Homo sapiens: one gene and its partners. The protein of the gene in region 4 purifies or fractionates together with the protein of the main gene of each other region. This does not show direct contact. Each region holds a gene or a part of one and is shown on either strand. Other genes may lie near its edges.

What was found. The genes of interacting proteins can lie anywhere in the genome.
Region 1: the proteins of MCCC2 (region 4) and YTHDF2 fractionate together in Homo sapiens (co-fractionation; one large-scale study listed by BioGRID). This does not show direct contact.
Region 2: the proteins of MCCC2 (region 4) and ALDH1L1 purify together in Homo sapiens (co-immunoprecipitation; one large-scale study listed by IntAct). This does not show direct contact.
Region 3: the proteins of MCCC2 (region 4) and HMGCL fractionate together in Homo sapiens (co-fractionation; one large-scale study listed by BioGRID). This does not show direct contact.

Annotation. Positions count from the first base shown.
Region 1 is NC_000001.11:28,760,940-28,764,439, forward strand, and holds part of YTHDF2 (YTH domain-containing family protein 2), read left to right. Parts: intron 1-3,500. UniProt on the Homo sapiens protein: Specifically recognizes and binds N6-methyladenosine (m6A)-containing RNAs, and regulates their stability. M6A is a modification present at internal sites of mRNAs and some non-coding RNAs and plays a role in mRNA stability and processing.
Region 2 is NC_000003.12:126,149,587-126,153,086, forward strand, and holds part of ALDH1L1 (cytosolic 10-formyltetrahydrofolate dehydrogenase), read right to left. Parts: intron 946-3,500; coding exon 820-945; intron 1-819. UniProt on the Homo sapiens protein: Cytosolic 10-formyltetrahydrofolate dehydrogenase that catalyzes the NADP(+)-dependent conversion of 10-formyltetrahydrofolate to tetrahydrofolate and carbon dioxide.
Region 3 is NC_000001.11:23,804,930-23,808,429, reverse strand, and holds part of HMGCL (hydroxymethylglutaryl-CoA lyase, mitochondrial isoform 1 precursor), read left to right. Parts: intron 1-106; coding exon 107-295; intron 296-3,500. UniProt on the Homo sapiens protein: Mitochondrial 3-hydroxy-3-methylglutaryl-CoA lyase that catalyzes a cation-dependent cleavage of (S)-3-hydroxy-3-methylglutaryl-CoA into acetyl-CoA and acetoacetate, a key step in ketogenesis. Terminal step in leucine catabolism.
Region 4 is NC_000005.10:71,600,840-71,604,339, forward strand, and holds part of MCCC2 (methylcrotonoyl-CoA carboxylase beta chain, mitochondrial isoform 1 precursor), read left to right. Parts: intron 1-1,666; coding exon 1,667-1,794; intron 1,795-3,500. UniProt on the Homo sapiens protein: Carboxyltransferase subunit of the 3-methylcrotonyl-CoA carboxylase, an enzyme that catalyzes the conversion of 3-methylcrotonyl-CoA to 3-methylglutaconyl-CoA, a critical step for leucine and isovaleric acid catabolism.

The DNA.
Region 1 (3,500 bases), on a different chromosome or scaffold from region 4:
TTGCAGTGCGGTAGGTTTGTTTACACCGCATTACCACAAACAAGTGAGTAATGTTTTGTGCTACATCCTTACAGTGGCTTCGACATCGCTAGGTGATAGGAATTTGTCAGCTCCATTATAATCTTACTGATCTGTCATTGACTGAAATGTCATTATATCGTGCATGAGTGTGTGTGTGTGTGTGTGTGTGTATTTTTTTTTTTTTTTTTTTTTGAGAGAAGGCCTCACTTTGTCACCCAGGCTGGAGTGTAGTGGCCTGATCACAACTCATTGCAGCTTTGACCTCCTGGGCTTAAGCATACTTTTTCTTGCAGCCTTCTAAGTAGCTGGGACCACACAGGTGTTCGCCACTATGCCTGGCTAATTAAAAAAACTTTTTGGAGAGATAAGGTTTCACTGTGTTGCCCAGGCTGTTCTTGAATTCCTGGGCTTAAGTGATCCTCCTCCTTTGGCCTCTCAAATTGTTAGGATTCCAGGTGTGAGCCACCATGCCTGGCCTAATGTTTAAAAATTTCTGGCTGGTGCGGTGGCCCATGCCTGTAATCCCAGCACATAACGGAGGCCAAGGCAGGTGGATCACCTGAGGTTGGGAGTTCGAGACCATCCTGACCAACATGGAGAAACCCCGTCTCTACTAAAAATACAAAATTAGCTGGGCATGGTGGCGCACGCATGTAATCCCAGCTACTCAGGAGGCTGAGGCAGAAGAATCGCTTGAACCCGGGAAGTGGAGGTTGCGGTGAGCCGAGATTGCGCCATTGCATTCCAGGCAACAAGAGCGAAACTCTGTCTCAAATTCTAGTAGAGTCAGGTTCTCAGTATGTTGCCCAGGCTGGTCTCAAACTGCTGGTCCCAGCCTCCCAAAGTGCTGGGCTTGTAGGCAGGAGGTACCATGGCCAAAATAGATATTTTTAATAAAATATTATAGCCTTGCTTTAAATTGGAGAACTGATGAAAAATACTTTGTCTCTTTATCTGGGGGAAGTTAGCATCTTAATTATATATGACTTGATGTTTCATATATATATGACTTGAAGTCTAAAGTCAAGTCATTAGACTTATTTAACTTATTCACGGCATTGGAGACTATAAAGGTTGATTCTATTAAACCATATCAAGCAATGGAAGTAATTTTTGTGTCATCACATCACTTTTAAAAACACATTTTCCTAGCCGGGCGTGGTGGCTCACGCTTGTAATCCCAGCACTTTGGGAGGCTGAGGCGGGCGGATCACGAGGTCAGGAGATCGAGACCATCCTGGCTAACACGGTGAAACCCCGTCTCTACTAAAAATACAAAAAATTAGCCGGGCATGGTGGCGGGCACCTGTAGTCCCAGCTACTCGGGAGGCTGAGGCAGGAGAATGGCATGAACCCGGGAGGTGGAGCTTGCAGTGAGTGGAGATTGTGCCACGGCACTCCAGTCTGGGCAACAGAGCGAGACTCTGTCTCAAAGAATTTTAGAATGAGACTCCGTCTCAAAGAATGACTCCCGTCTAAGCATTTTATATTGTCAGCTGGGGTGCTGAACTTTGGGTTTCTTTCAAGGTTCATGGGGGCATAGGAAAAACTAGTTGAGAGCTATATAGATTTAATTTTGTGGGAGAGATAAACATTTACCAGATTTTAATGTTAATAAAATTATATCCAGGTGAATATGAATATGCCTCAGTTGTGTTTTATGGCCCACTTGAAAGTGAAGGGAGAGGGAGGGATAGAACAGTGCAGTAGTAAGTAGAAAGGTTATTAAGCTTAAATAGAGGGAAGCTAAATAGGCAGATTTACTGTTTTTGAATATTATATGAAGAGATTGCATATGTGCAGACTTTAACATTGCCACCTTATGGCTTTTTGTATATTTCCTCCAGAGACTGAATTTTCTATTTTATTTTATTTTATTTTTAATTTTTATTTTTGAGACAGAATCTAGCTCTGTTGGCTAGGCTGGAGTGCAGTGGCGCGATCTTGGCTCACCCGGGTTCAAGTGATTGATTCTCCTGCCTCAGCCTCCTGAATAGCTGGGACTACAGGCATGTGCCACCACGCTTGGCTAATTTTTGTATTTTTAGTAGAGATGGGGTTTCACAATGTTGGCCAGCCCTGTCTTGAGCTACTGACCTCAAGTGATCCACCTGCCTCGGCCTCCCAAAGTGCTGGCATTACAGGCATGAGCCACTGCACCCAGCCGAGTTTTCTATTTTGTAATCATAGATTTAAAGTGAGGAGGGCCTAAGGTGGATGGGTGGATAGAGATGTCGACATTATTTCTAGTTATTTAAGCCACAGACCAGATCTGTCTGGACTTGTAGTTTCCTAATTTATTCATAGTTAATATCTTTAATGTTTTTATTTGAGACAGAGTTTTGCTCTTTTGCCCAGGCTGGAGTGAAGTGGCGTGACCTTGGCTCGCTGCAACCTCTGCCCCCTGGGTTCAAACAATTCTCCTGCCTCAGCCTCCTGAGTAGCTGGGATTATAGGTGCCTGACACCAGGGCTGGCTAGTTTTTTATTTATTTTTAATTTTTATTTTTTATTGAGATGGAATCTCCCTCTGTTGCTCAGGCTGGAGTGCAGTGGTGCGATCTCAGCTCAGTGCAACCTCCACCACCCAGGTTCAAGCGATTCTCCTGCCTTAGCCTCCTGAATAGCTGGGACTACAGGTGTGTGCCACCATGCCCAACTAATTTTTTGTATTTTTAGCAGAGATGGGGTTTCACCATGTTAGCCAGGATGGTCTCGATCTCCTGACCTGGTGATCCGCCCACCTCAGCCTCCCAAAGTGCTGGGATCACAGGCGTAAGCCACTGTGCCCAGCCAATTTTTTTTTTTTTTGGGATTATGGGCGTGAGCCACTGAGCCTGGCCGACAATTTATAATTGTATATATTTATGGGGTACAAAGTAATCTTAATTTTTTCAAAGAACCAACTTTTGTTTTTTTTTTTCCTATTATATATACTTTAACTCATGCCAGCTCATATCTTTATTATTATTATTATTTTTTAAATTTATTTATTTTATTTTTTTTTGAGACGGGGTTTCTCTCTTGTTGCCAAGGCTGGAGTGCAGTGGTGTGATCTCGGCTCACTGCAACCTCCATCTCCCAGGTTCAAGCGATTTTCCTGCCTCAGCCTTCCTAGTAGCTGGGATTACAGGCATGTGCCACCACGCCCAGCTAATTTTGTATTTTTAGTAAGAGACGGGGGTTTCTCCATGTTGGTCAGGCTGGTCTCGAACTCCCGACCTCAGGTGATCCGCCCACCTCGGCCTCCCAAAGTGCTGGGATTACAGGCATGAGCCACTGTGCCCGGCCCAATTTTTTATTTTTATTTATTTTTATTTTTATTTTTTTGAGACGGAGTTTTGCTCTGTCACCCAGGCTGGAGTACAGTGGCGCGATCTCAGCTCACTGCATCCCCTGCCTCCTGGATTTAAGCAGTTCTCTGCCTCAGCCTCCCAAATGGCTGGGATTACAGGCGCCCACCACCACGCCCGGCTAATT
Region 2 (3,500 bases), on a different chromosome or scaffold from region 4:
GGAAGTTGCTGGCTCTCAGCACCTTTGGATCACACAAATGCCTCATGTCCATCCTTGCTGAGCCTTGCCGCACATGTGCTGTTAACACCCAAGGTCCCCAGCTGTGCCCACCTGACTCTGCCCCTCACCCCCTGGGCTCCAGCTACAGTGCCCTCCCATGGTGACTCCCTGAACACAGGGAGGCCTCTGCCCTGTTAGGGCCTTGCCATTTGCTGTTCCTTCTCTCTTGAAGGTCTTCCCCCAGATCTCTTCTCTCCACCCAGGGAAGAAGGATACAGTGGGAGGGAGCATGAAGGGTCAGGAACAAATTCCAGGAAGTGAGCATGGATGGAAATTCATGTTGAGAAGACTGAGTCTTAGAGACGAAAGCTCCCTACAGCATCATATTGGGGCAAAGCTGGATTGGAGACCAGGTGTGCCTTATGGGCAGCTTGTGTTGGTCACAGCCCGGGATGCTGCCTCTGGTGCAGCCTTTCTGGAAGGCTCCAGTGCTCACATTCTAATCACAGGGACATGGGCTTGACACCTGACTCTTTCAAATATTCCAGGAGCTTCTGTTTCACTTATTAAGTGTTGACAATGAGCCCCTAGAAGAGTCAGACTGAACTGGCCAGATCCCAGGGCCCCAGTTGCAGAGGAAGGAGCAGCAAGAAGACAACAGAAAGCTCCAAGACGAGATAGAACCAACACTGCACCTGGAGCCAAAACAGACACCCACAGAGGGCTGGCGCTGCCCAACTCTGGGGAGTGTGATTTGCAGAACACATGTGCACGGCACAACCTGCCCAACTGGATGGCAGCCCTGAAGTTGCCTCTTACCCGCACAGCCTCCGCAGTAACCAGCTCTGCCTCTGTCAGCTCAAGGACACTGCTGGCTGCCCCCTTAAAGAAGTTCGAGGCCAGGATCATTTTGCCATCCTCCAGCTGAATATTCTTCACCAGCAGCTGCAAAAGGAAGGATTTCTTTTCTTTTCTTTTCTTTTTTTGAGACAGAGTCTTGCTCTGTTGCCCAGGCTGGAGTGCAGTGGTGCGATCTCGGCTCACTACAACCTCCGCCTCCCGGGTTGAAGCGATTCTCCTGCCTCAGCCCTCCTGAATAGCTGGGATTACAGGCGCGCACCACCATGCCCGACTAATTTTTGTTTGTATTTTTAGTAGAGACGGGGTTTCACCACATTGGTCAGGCTGGTCTCGAACTCCTGACCTCATGATCCATCCACCTTGGCCTCCCAAAGTGCTGGGATTACAGGCATGAGCCACTGCGCCCGGCCAAAAGGAAGGATTTCACAGTTCCTGTGGTCGGACCTGAGGCAGTGATGAAGGTGTCCCACAAGGGGTGCTGTGCTGGGCGCTCCAGCCTTGTCTCCAACCTTCAGATGAGGAAGAAGCAGGGAGTCTCAGATTAGTGATGAGTTCAGAGTGGGGAGGCCACTATTCCAGGGACACAGAGGGAATTGCAGAGCTTGTGTCCCCTACCAGCTGCTCGATTTTCCATCACCCACTCCCACCACACTTTCACTTTGTTTTTAAGTGTAATGACTTTATTACTTCTATAAAAAAGGATTCCTACTGAACAAAAAAAGAAAACGTCATTCAGGCACCACATAGAAAGTCAACTTAGAAAAAAAAACTAATCTTGCAATCACCCAGTAGCTCCCAGAACTGCCACAGAAACACCTGGAGAACATCACCAGATGCCTGTGTGGGATACAGAGGTGGGAAGAGGAGAGGCTGAAAAAGGGTCTGGCCGGCCCTGCAGTCTGCAGCTTCAGGATAGCACTTCAAGCTGGTCCCAGGTAGAGCCTGCGTCCAGCCATCAGTTCAAGGGGATTCTGGCTGCCAGACATGAACTGCCCCCATTGTAGCTCATGACTCTGGGCTACTCTAGTGTCTGCCTCAGATTTACTGTATTTAATAAGATGTTTGAATTGTTTGGGGCCTGCTTGTTTATCAATAGTTTTTCAACAAATGCTTTTGTTAGGGGCCAGGAAAAAAAACACATGTACAAAAAGAGTTATGGATAAGCTCATGGGTGGGTGCATGTCACTGTGCGTTAAGAGTGGCTGTGTAAGAATGGTACTCTGTATGCATGCTCTGCCAGAACTGGAACTTGCCTCTCGGCCTGACCCTCGCCCCATTGCCTTTCAAAGATGTTCTGGAGCTTTCTGCAAGCTAAAGCCCAGCCAGACTCCACAGGGCGTGGCTGAGAGATGCTTCAACCCAGGGTCTTCTGGGTTGATCTGTGGGGAGCAGGGTGTGTGTGCTCAGCTGGTCTCTCCTCACTCCCCTCCCACCCTGACCACCTCTGGACAGTGGACAAAGCTCTTGTGAGAGAGCTGATAACCCCAGCTTCCTCTTAAGACACTTAATTGCCTTCTTTGCATTCCTGTCTTTGCAGGTCTCTGGACAGATGCTGTGGGTGCCCTGCTCAGACCCCTGTGGCTGGTGCCCTGTCCTCCAGCTGCAGCAAGGGCTGGATGATAACGGCCTGCACTGTCCCATCCTTGCTTGCTGTGGATGGATAAGAGCTCCTGTACACAAAGAGGCCGAGGGATTATGCCTGGTGGGTCCTCCACCCCACCCCAGGGGCCACTGAAACCAAAGGCTGACAGAGGTGGGGACAGGCAGGTATAATTGGAGGGTGCAGTTAATACTCCAAAACCCACCCTGGGAGCAGCCCCAGGCTAGACTTCTCCTGAACCTTTACTTTTGCTTTGCTTTCCTCTGCCCTTACTGCCTCGCATGATTTTCTGGAACATTCCCTCAATAAATCACTTGCACAAGAATTTTTACCTTAGATGCTGCTTCTAGGGAACCTGACCACAGACAGATATTCTCTTGCAACTGCATATATCAATCTTGGATACCCAAAACACTACATTGCAGACATCAACAGCAGCCTAGACCTTCTGACAGGGGAGCATGGCAGACTGGACACCAAGAGCGAGCAAAGGCCAGGCCCCATACTGCCACGCCTCACTCTGGTAGGCCGGACACAGCAACACGGCTGGGGGTACCACGCCCATGGGGTTTGTCCGGACCCTGTCAGTGTGTGGGAAGATCCCTGCCTGCCCTCTCCCTACCCCCGGCTGCTCATGTGAGAAGGAGTAGTAGAGTGCATATGAACAGGAAGCTACCATGGCCAAGACCAGCATCACGGCTTTGGAGCCAGAATTTCAGAGTCTGAATCCCAGCTCTGCCACGGGCTAGCTTGGATGATCCTGGACAAGTTATTTAAATCTCTGTTTTTTTCCTCTATAAGGATATAATATTTATACATATCTCATAGTGTTGTTAGGCAGATTAAATTTAACGCATATACATTGTTCTGGTATAAAAGGTGCTCCATCAGTGTTTGCTGGTACCGTGAGTTGTAGTCTGCTAATAACAAGAGCAGGTGGCCGGCATGGCTCCCAAGGCTCTGCACGTGCTAAGTTACCATGGCATCGCCGTTCAAAGAGATGGGAGCTGAGGCACAGAGGCTTAATGACCCCACACCC
Region 3 (3,500 bases), on a different chromosome or scaffold from region 4:
GTCATACCCAGAAGTGTTCTGCCCAGGCAAAGGCCCCCTCTTCTGAGTGCATGGATCCCCTGGCTGGTGGATTCTGTATCCTCCAAGTGCCTGCTTGCTTCCTTAGGTCACCAAGAAGTTCTACTCAATGGGCTGCTACGAGATCTCCCTGGGGGACACCATTGGTGTGGGCACCCCAGGGATCATGAAAGACATGCTATCTGCTGTCATGCAGGAAGTGCCTCTGGCTGCCCTGGCTGTCCACTGCCATGACACCTATGGTCAAGCCCTGGCCAACACCTTGATGGCCCTGCAGGTAATCAAAAGCATATGCCCATTCTCCCAAAGGTCACGGTGGGCAGGACAGCTTGTTATCATTTATTCTTTCAGCAAACATTTACTGATGCCAGTATGCCAGGTTCCAAGCTGGCAATGGTGGACACAGTCATGGTGACCCTGCCCAGATGTGAAGTGTACAGCTCTGTGTTGGGGAGACAGTCAAGGGAGTTACATGGCAATCCCACTGCATTATGACAGATGCCATGAAGGGAGGAAGCATGGGGCTCAGGAAGCCTAGAGGGGCCCCATCCCAGCTGAGGAGATCTGGGAGGATTTGCAAAAGAGGCCTCAGTGAAGCTTGAAGAACATAAAGTAAGCTGCTGTTGAGGGAAGAGGAAAGATGACTAGGCAGAATTGCACCTCAGGACTGATGTGGGGTTCAGGGAGGACTCATACAATATACAGGGTTTTCAGTGTGCGGGTGTGTAGCAGAAGCAGATGAGGAAGCAGGAGGTAGAGAAGCTAGCAGAGGTCACTCAGAGGGAGAGGCTTTAATGCCGTTCCCCACAGATTGAGCTAAGACCTCAGATTAGTTTCCTTTGAGGTTTGCTTCTCGTGGGCTGGTCCAGAATGGAGATCCATTGGCTGGCAGCCAGATAGAAGGAGCATTCTTAGTGTCTGACCACAGCTACCTTGCTGTAGCATTGGCCTAACCTTCCATCTCTAGGATAGTGATGGCAGTTCCAGCCACTTTTTTTTTCCTCTCAATTATCCCCTAGAGGTTCGTGTCTAAGCCAGGTGAGTCTGTTATGTTCTGGGTCGGTTTCCTCAGAGTTGTGGCTGTCAAGGTTAAGGTTCGTAGTTCTGTGGTCTCCTCATTTTTCAGCTTACTGTGATACCCTGCCCTGGTTCCTGGGCTTTCCTTCAGCTCATGCGTTTCCCAGCCAGGCAGACAGGAAGAGTGACTTCCTCTCCTATGCCTTGCCAGGCAGGTAAAGGGGAATTCTGCACAGCTGAGGTGAGTCTGAGGCAAAACTTCATCCTGATCACGCTCAGGACACTCCTGCTCCTCTGTGCTTCTCTGTTTCATGGCAGTGATATCTCAGAATCCCCTTTTTGAAAATTTATCAGGGAACAGGTTGAGCTGTGTGACGTCTGGCAGTAGCTTCCTCTGACCTCCCTCTTCCATCAGTTACTTCGGAAATATGGATCGATGTGCCAGGTTAAGTGCTGACTTAGACAATGGTAACAAGACCCAATCCCTGCCCTCTGGGAGCTCATGTTATGGTGGGTGGGGAAGACAGATGGAAGATTACAGGCGTGTAAATAGCACATTGTAAGACCATTTATTCACCTATTAAAACCTAACCTAACGGTGCCTAGTGTGCTAGGCACTGTTCTCAGCATTAAGGATTCAGCTGTGACCAAAACAGAGTCTCTGCCCTCATGAGGCTGACACTCTAGTACTATGAGACAGATAATAAATAAACAAACATACAGCAGGCCAGGTGTTCATAAACACTGTGGAGAAAAAATGAAGCAGGTTAAGGCAGTGCCAGGCCTTTCTGTAGAGTGGCCTCACTCAGAAGGTAGCATTTGAGAGAGACCTGAGGGAAGCGAGGGAGTGAGCCCTGCGGATCCCTAGCAGGGAGGGGGAGGGAAGGGAGCCCCACCCAGGAAAGCAGGCGCAGAGCCCTGAGGGAGGAGTGTGCTTGCTGTGTTCAGGGATCAGGAGGAGGCATGTGGCGGGAGCAGTGTGACTGAGGAGAGGGGGGCAGAGATGTCAGGGTTAGAGGAAGGCCAGATCGGGGGCCTTGTAGGACTTTGACTCTTTCAGACTGAGCTGGGAAGCTAACAGAGAGTCTTGAGCAGGGGCGGGGAGGGAGATGATCTGAAATGTTCCGTTTGAGAGGCTCCTCGGCTGGGCACAGTGGCTCACACCTGTAATCCCAGCACTTTGGGAGGCTGAGGCAGGTGGATCACTTGAGGTCAGGAGTTTTGAGACCAGCCTGGCCAACATGGTGAAACCCTGTCTCAACTAAAAATATAAAAATTAGCTGGGCGTGGTGGCGTGAGCCTGTAATCCCAGCTATTTGCGAGGCTGAGGCATGAGAATCACTTGAGCCCGGGAGGTGGAGGTTGCAGTGATTTGCAGTGAGCTGAGATGGCGCCAGTGCACTCCAGCCTAGGCAACAGAGTGAGACTTCTTATCAAAAAAAAAAAAGAGGCTCCTCTGGGTGCTGTGTAGAGAATACACTGTAGAGAGAAGAACCAGTTTGGAGCCTACAGCAATCCAGGTGAGAGACATGGCAAGGAGGCCTGGAGGGCAGAGGTGCGTGACCGGATCTCAGCAGTTCGTGTTCTGATCTGTGAAGCTCGAGACATCTATAGGCAGGTGTGTTAACCTGGGTGCAGTTAACTGGGAGTGAGTGGAGATAGAGAAGCTGTCTGAGGAATGAGCAGTAAGGGCTCCAACCGAGATCAGGGAGGTGAGGAAGAGCCAGCAAAGACTGGATCGAGGCCTCAGGAGAGGCTAGAGCACTAGGAGGAAAACCAAGGGATGTGGAGCCCTGGAAGCCACATGGAGAAGGTGTCCAAGATGATGCGGCTAGTCAAGTGCAAAGATGAAGAGACTTGACCTTTGTACTTAGCTACATGGAGGCCACCAGTGGCCTTGACTAGAGCTGTTTCAGTGGAGGAGTTGTGGGGACGCAAACCTGTTTCGAATGGGTTCAAATGAGAATGGTAGATGTTAAATGGGAACAGCTCTTTTGAGGGACTTTGCTTTGAATGGGGGGAAAGAAATTGGAGGTTAGAGGGTTCCAAAAAGGTTTGTAAAAGATGGGAGAGATCGCAGGCTGTGTGAAGATGACCCAGTGGAGGGGAGTAACAGGTTGCAGCAGAGAGGGAGAGACTTACTGGAGCACATCCTGAAGCAGGTGGGAATGGGCCTCACGCCAAGGTGGAGGGGTTGGCCTTGGCTAGGAGCTCAGGGTCCATCTCAGGCAGCATGAGGGACAGTGGGTCTGTAGGCCCAGATGTAGGCAGGTGGGTAGATGTGATGGTGGGAATCAATGGAGACATCTCTTGATTGCATCCATTTCCATAAAGCAGCAGATGAGAATGAGGATGGGGAAGGGGGTGATAGAGGTTTAAGAAGAGAGGAGAAAGTGAAATAGTCATTTGGGATAGTGGGAGGTGACTGACCTGGGAAGATGGGATGTGGCCCTCGTGTGGCAAGG
Region 4 (3,500 bases):
CTAGGCAGCCTCTCTAAATCCAGAGGCAGTGATGGTCATAGGCAGTTCCTGGTTTATATTCTATAAGTTTAGCAGCTGCAGTGGAAGGCAAGATCTGCTTAGGCTTAGAGCCTGTCCCATTGCCGAGCCTCAGTGGGAACTCTGGGTAGAAAGACCTGGTCCCTGTGCCCCCCTTTAAGGCAGGCTCTGGGGTCAGTCCTACTTGAGCCACCTGGATTAAAGATAAGAGGCAGTTTCTGAAAGAAGGTTTAGTTTTGTTGCCAAAATAATAGATGCTGGGTAGGCAAAACCAATAGAAATGCAATCTAGTATTTTTGTGGGCCAATTTGATTTCTCATTCTGTAACAAGTCTGTGACCTTTAATAGACAAGCAGATATGGCTATGTCCCTTGTCCATGGTCACATAACTAACAAGTTGGCAGAGCCAGAATTTCAGTCTAACTTTGTCTGACTTCACAGCCTGGCCTCTTTCCAGTACCAGAGCTTCTTAAACTTTCTAGCGTAGCACCCCCAGTGGTAGGAAGTATGAGCACACACTCTGGAGTGTGAGGTTATGGCCCAGCAACCTATGAGAAGCCTACATTTCCTTTGAAGTCTAGTTCGTTTAATGTTAAATCATTAAAAGTTTGCATTCTACTCTATAAAATGTTCATTGCAGTGCAGAAAAAGGTTTTATATGACCTAGGGAATAAAATTGATGCTCAAAGAAGAGTCCTGTTTGTCTTGTGGCGAGCCCTGCTGGCCACATATCCTAGTATGAGAAGCTCAACACTACCCTGTGCTGGGTGTTCAGTTGCCGTTCTCTATTTTCAGCAGGGATTTAATGACTCACTCTTTAGAGTTGTAGGCAGCATAAAGTGAGGTAACACAAACATCAGAAACATAAAGAAAATTGAATTTTGTAAAGAGCACACTGTTGTCATCTCAGATTTCAAGGGTACCTCTGACCTTAAGGTTTCCTGCCAGTGCTGTACAGTTTCCCCAACCAGCTGTGGTTGTTGGCCGCCCTGCTCTTTGTGACTCATACCCAATAAACTGGTTTTGGTGAGAAAGGGCACTGTTGATGACTCAGGATACCTTTCATGTGTTTTTAGTATATTAAAGTTTGCATTCATTCTGACTTCAGTTAAGATGAACGTTATATTTTAGACTACATTTAGTTTTGTAGAAAACCATGGGGCTGTAATGTTGAAGAACAAGAATACAAAAAATAAATCTTAGTACTAAAGGTCAGTTTTCATTTTTGCAAAATACCCTCCTAAAAGGAGACTTTGAAGGTTTATTATGAGGGAATTCTTTTCCCTTGAGACTTGGATTTTTTTTTTCATTATTATTTTCATCTTATTAGGACCTTTTCATTCAAAGAACCATTATGACACAAGGCTTAGGTTGTTAGTTTTTTATTACTAATCTAGGACTGATGACTTTTCAAAAACCAAGTGTGAGTTTATAAACTTGTTAGAAGTAATTGTTTTGTATTATATAAATTAATATGTGAACTGTGATTAAAGTTTGCATTTATATCCTAAGACTGCTGTCTGCTAATGGATGTTAATAGTGATACGTACTAGAAGTTGAAGGTTGTATTGGGGTATCTTGTAATGAGTGTAATTAGTTTTGAAGAAATCTCTTAAATTCTCTCTCCAATGAAATTTCTGCCTTTCAGAGTAGAATGCATGATTATTGCCAATGATGCCACCGTCAAAGGAGGTGCCTACTACCCAGTGACTGTGAAAAAACAATTACGGGCCCAAGAAATTGCCATGCAAAACAGGCTCCCCTGCATCTACTTAGGCAAGTCACCAGAGTGGTAAAATAAACTATTATTAGCTGGTAAAATGCAAGATAGTTTGGAAGGCTGTATGTATTACATTTGGGATGGGTATTTTATAAACCTGTTGATTTCTCCTGTAATTATAAAGGAAACACAGGTTCTTTGCTGAAAACTCTGGGGGAAAGTAAACAAGAACTGTTCATAGTACTAGTGCATAATACTCATACATTTTGACGCATGCCAGTTTTTTTCTCTATGTGTTGTGTGGTTTTTTTTTTTTGTTCTCTAGATCCTGTTTTTCTTTTAACTTTATGGATCATACTATGAAAAAAATAGTAGCAAGTATTTATAGATCTCTTGAGTGCCAGGTACTGAGTTAAATGTGCAAGTATTATATAATTTGAGCAGATGTAATTTAAAGTAAATTTAATTTCCAGTGAAAGTAAACTTATATTTGAAATTAAAACACATTTAAATCAAAGAACCTGAAAGCAAAGCAGTTTAAAATGGGCCTTTCCTCCGGGCGCGGTGGCTCACGCCTGTAATCCCAGCACTTTGGGAGGCCGAGGCAGGCGGATCATGAGGTCAGGAGATGGAGACCATCCTGGCTAACACACTGAAACCTCGTCTCTACTAAAAAAAAATACAAAAAATTAGCCGAGCGTGGTGGCAGGCAGCTGTAGTCCCAGCTACTTGGGAGGCTGAGGCAGGAGAATGGTGTGAACCTGGGAGGCGGAGCTTGCAGTGAGCTGAAATCGTGCCACTGTACTCCAGCCTGGGCGACAGAGAGAGAGACTGTCTCAAAAAAAAAAAAAAAAAAAAAAAATGGGCCTTTCCTGATACTGGGTTAGTCTGATAAAATTCCAACATACGTTGTTCATGTATGCAGGTATTTGAACGGGTACTGATGTAGAGGTATTTTTTGTTTTGTGTTTTTCTGTGAAGTTGAATTTACCTGATTAACTCACAATACGAACTGCTCTGCACGTAGAGAAAACAGCAAATGAGGCCCAGCTGCTTGTAGGTGCTGTGCTGGTCTTTATAGGGGATACAGTGAGGAGGATTTTGTTGTCTCTGTCTTCAGCGAGCTCATAATGAATTGGACACAGCATATAATGTGCAACCAACAAAAGACTTAATGGTTGCAGATTCTGAACTAAGTGCTTTCTATACATTTTTCAAGTCATCCTAATATATGATATGGCTCCTTTTTTTATCTTCATTTCGTGGGTAAGGAAACCGGGGCATAGGATGGCTAGGAAACACACCTATAATCACACAGCTGTGAAGTCATGAGCTCTGCTTTGAACGCAACTGACCTGTGTACCCACCACTCCAATCTGCAATGAAAACAGTATCAGAAGGCAATATGTATAAATTATTATATGAATTCTGTGGATGGCTTTTGTATTGGTTTAGAAGAAGGAAAGATACTTTTCCACCTTAACTCTTTAAGAATTTATGATGTTTCTGGGGCTTTAGCTGGTCCTCAAAGGAGAGAAGGTTCTAACCATTTCGAGAAGAATTTTGCACAGAGGTGGGAAAGCCTGATGGGTTTGGGGCAATGAATCCTTTTGGCTGCATTGGGGGTTTGGAGAACGAGGCTCTATAACAGTTTAGAAAGACAGGGCAAGTTTTTTGTGAATGTGATTAAGAACTGATGCTGTCATTGATACAAGTTTCCCTCTGCGTAGCACATTTAGTTCATAGAGATGCTTATGTTTCT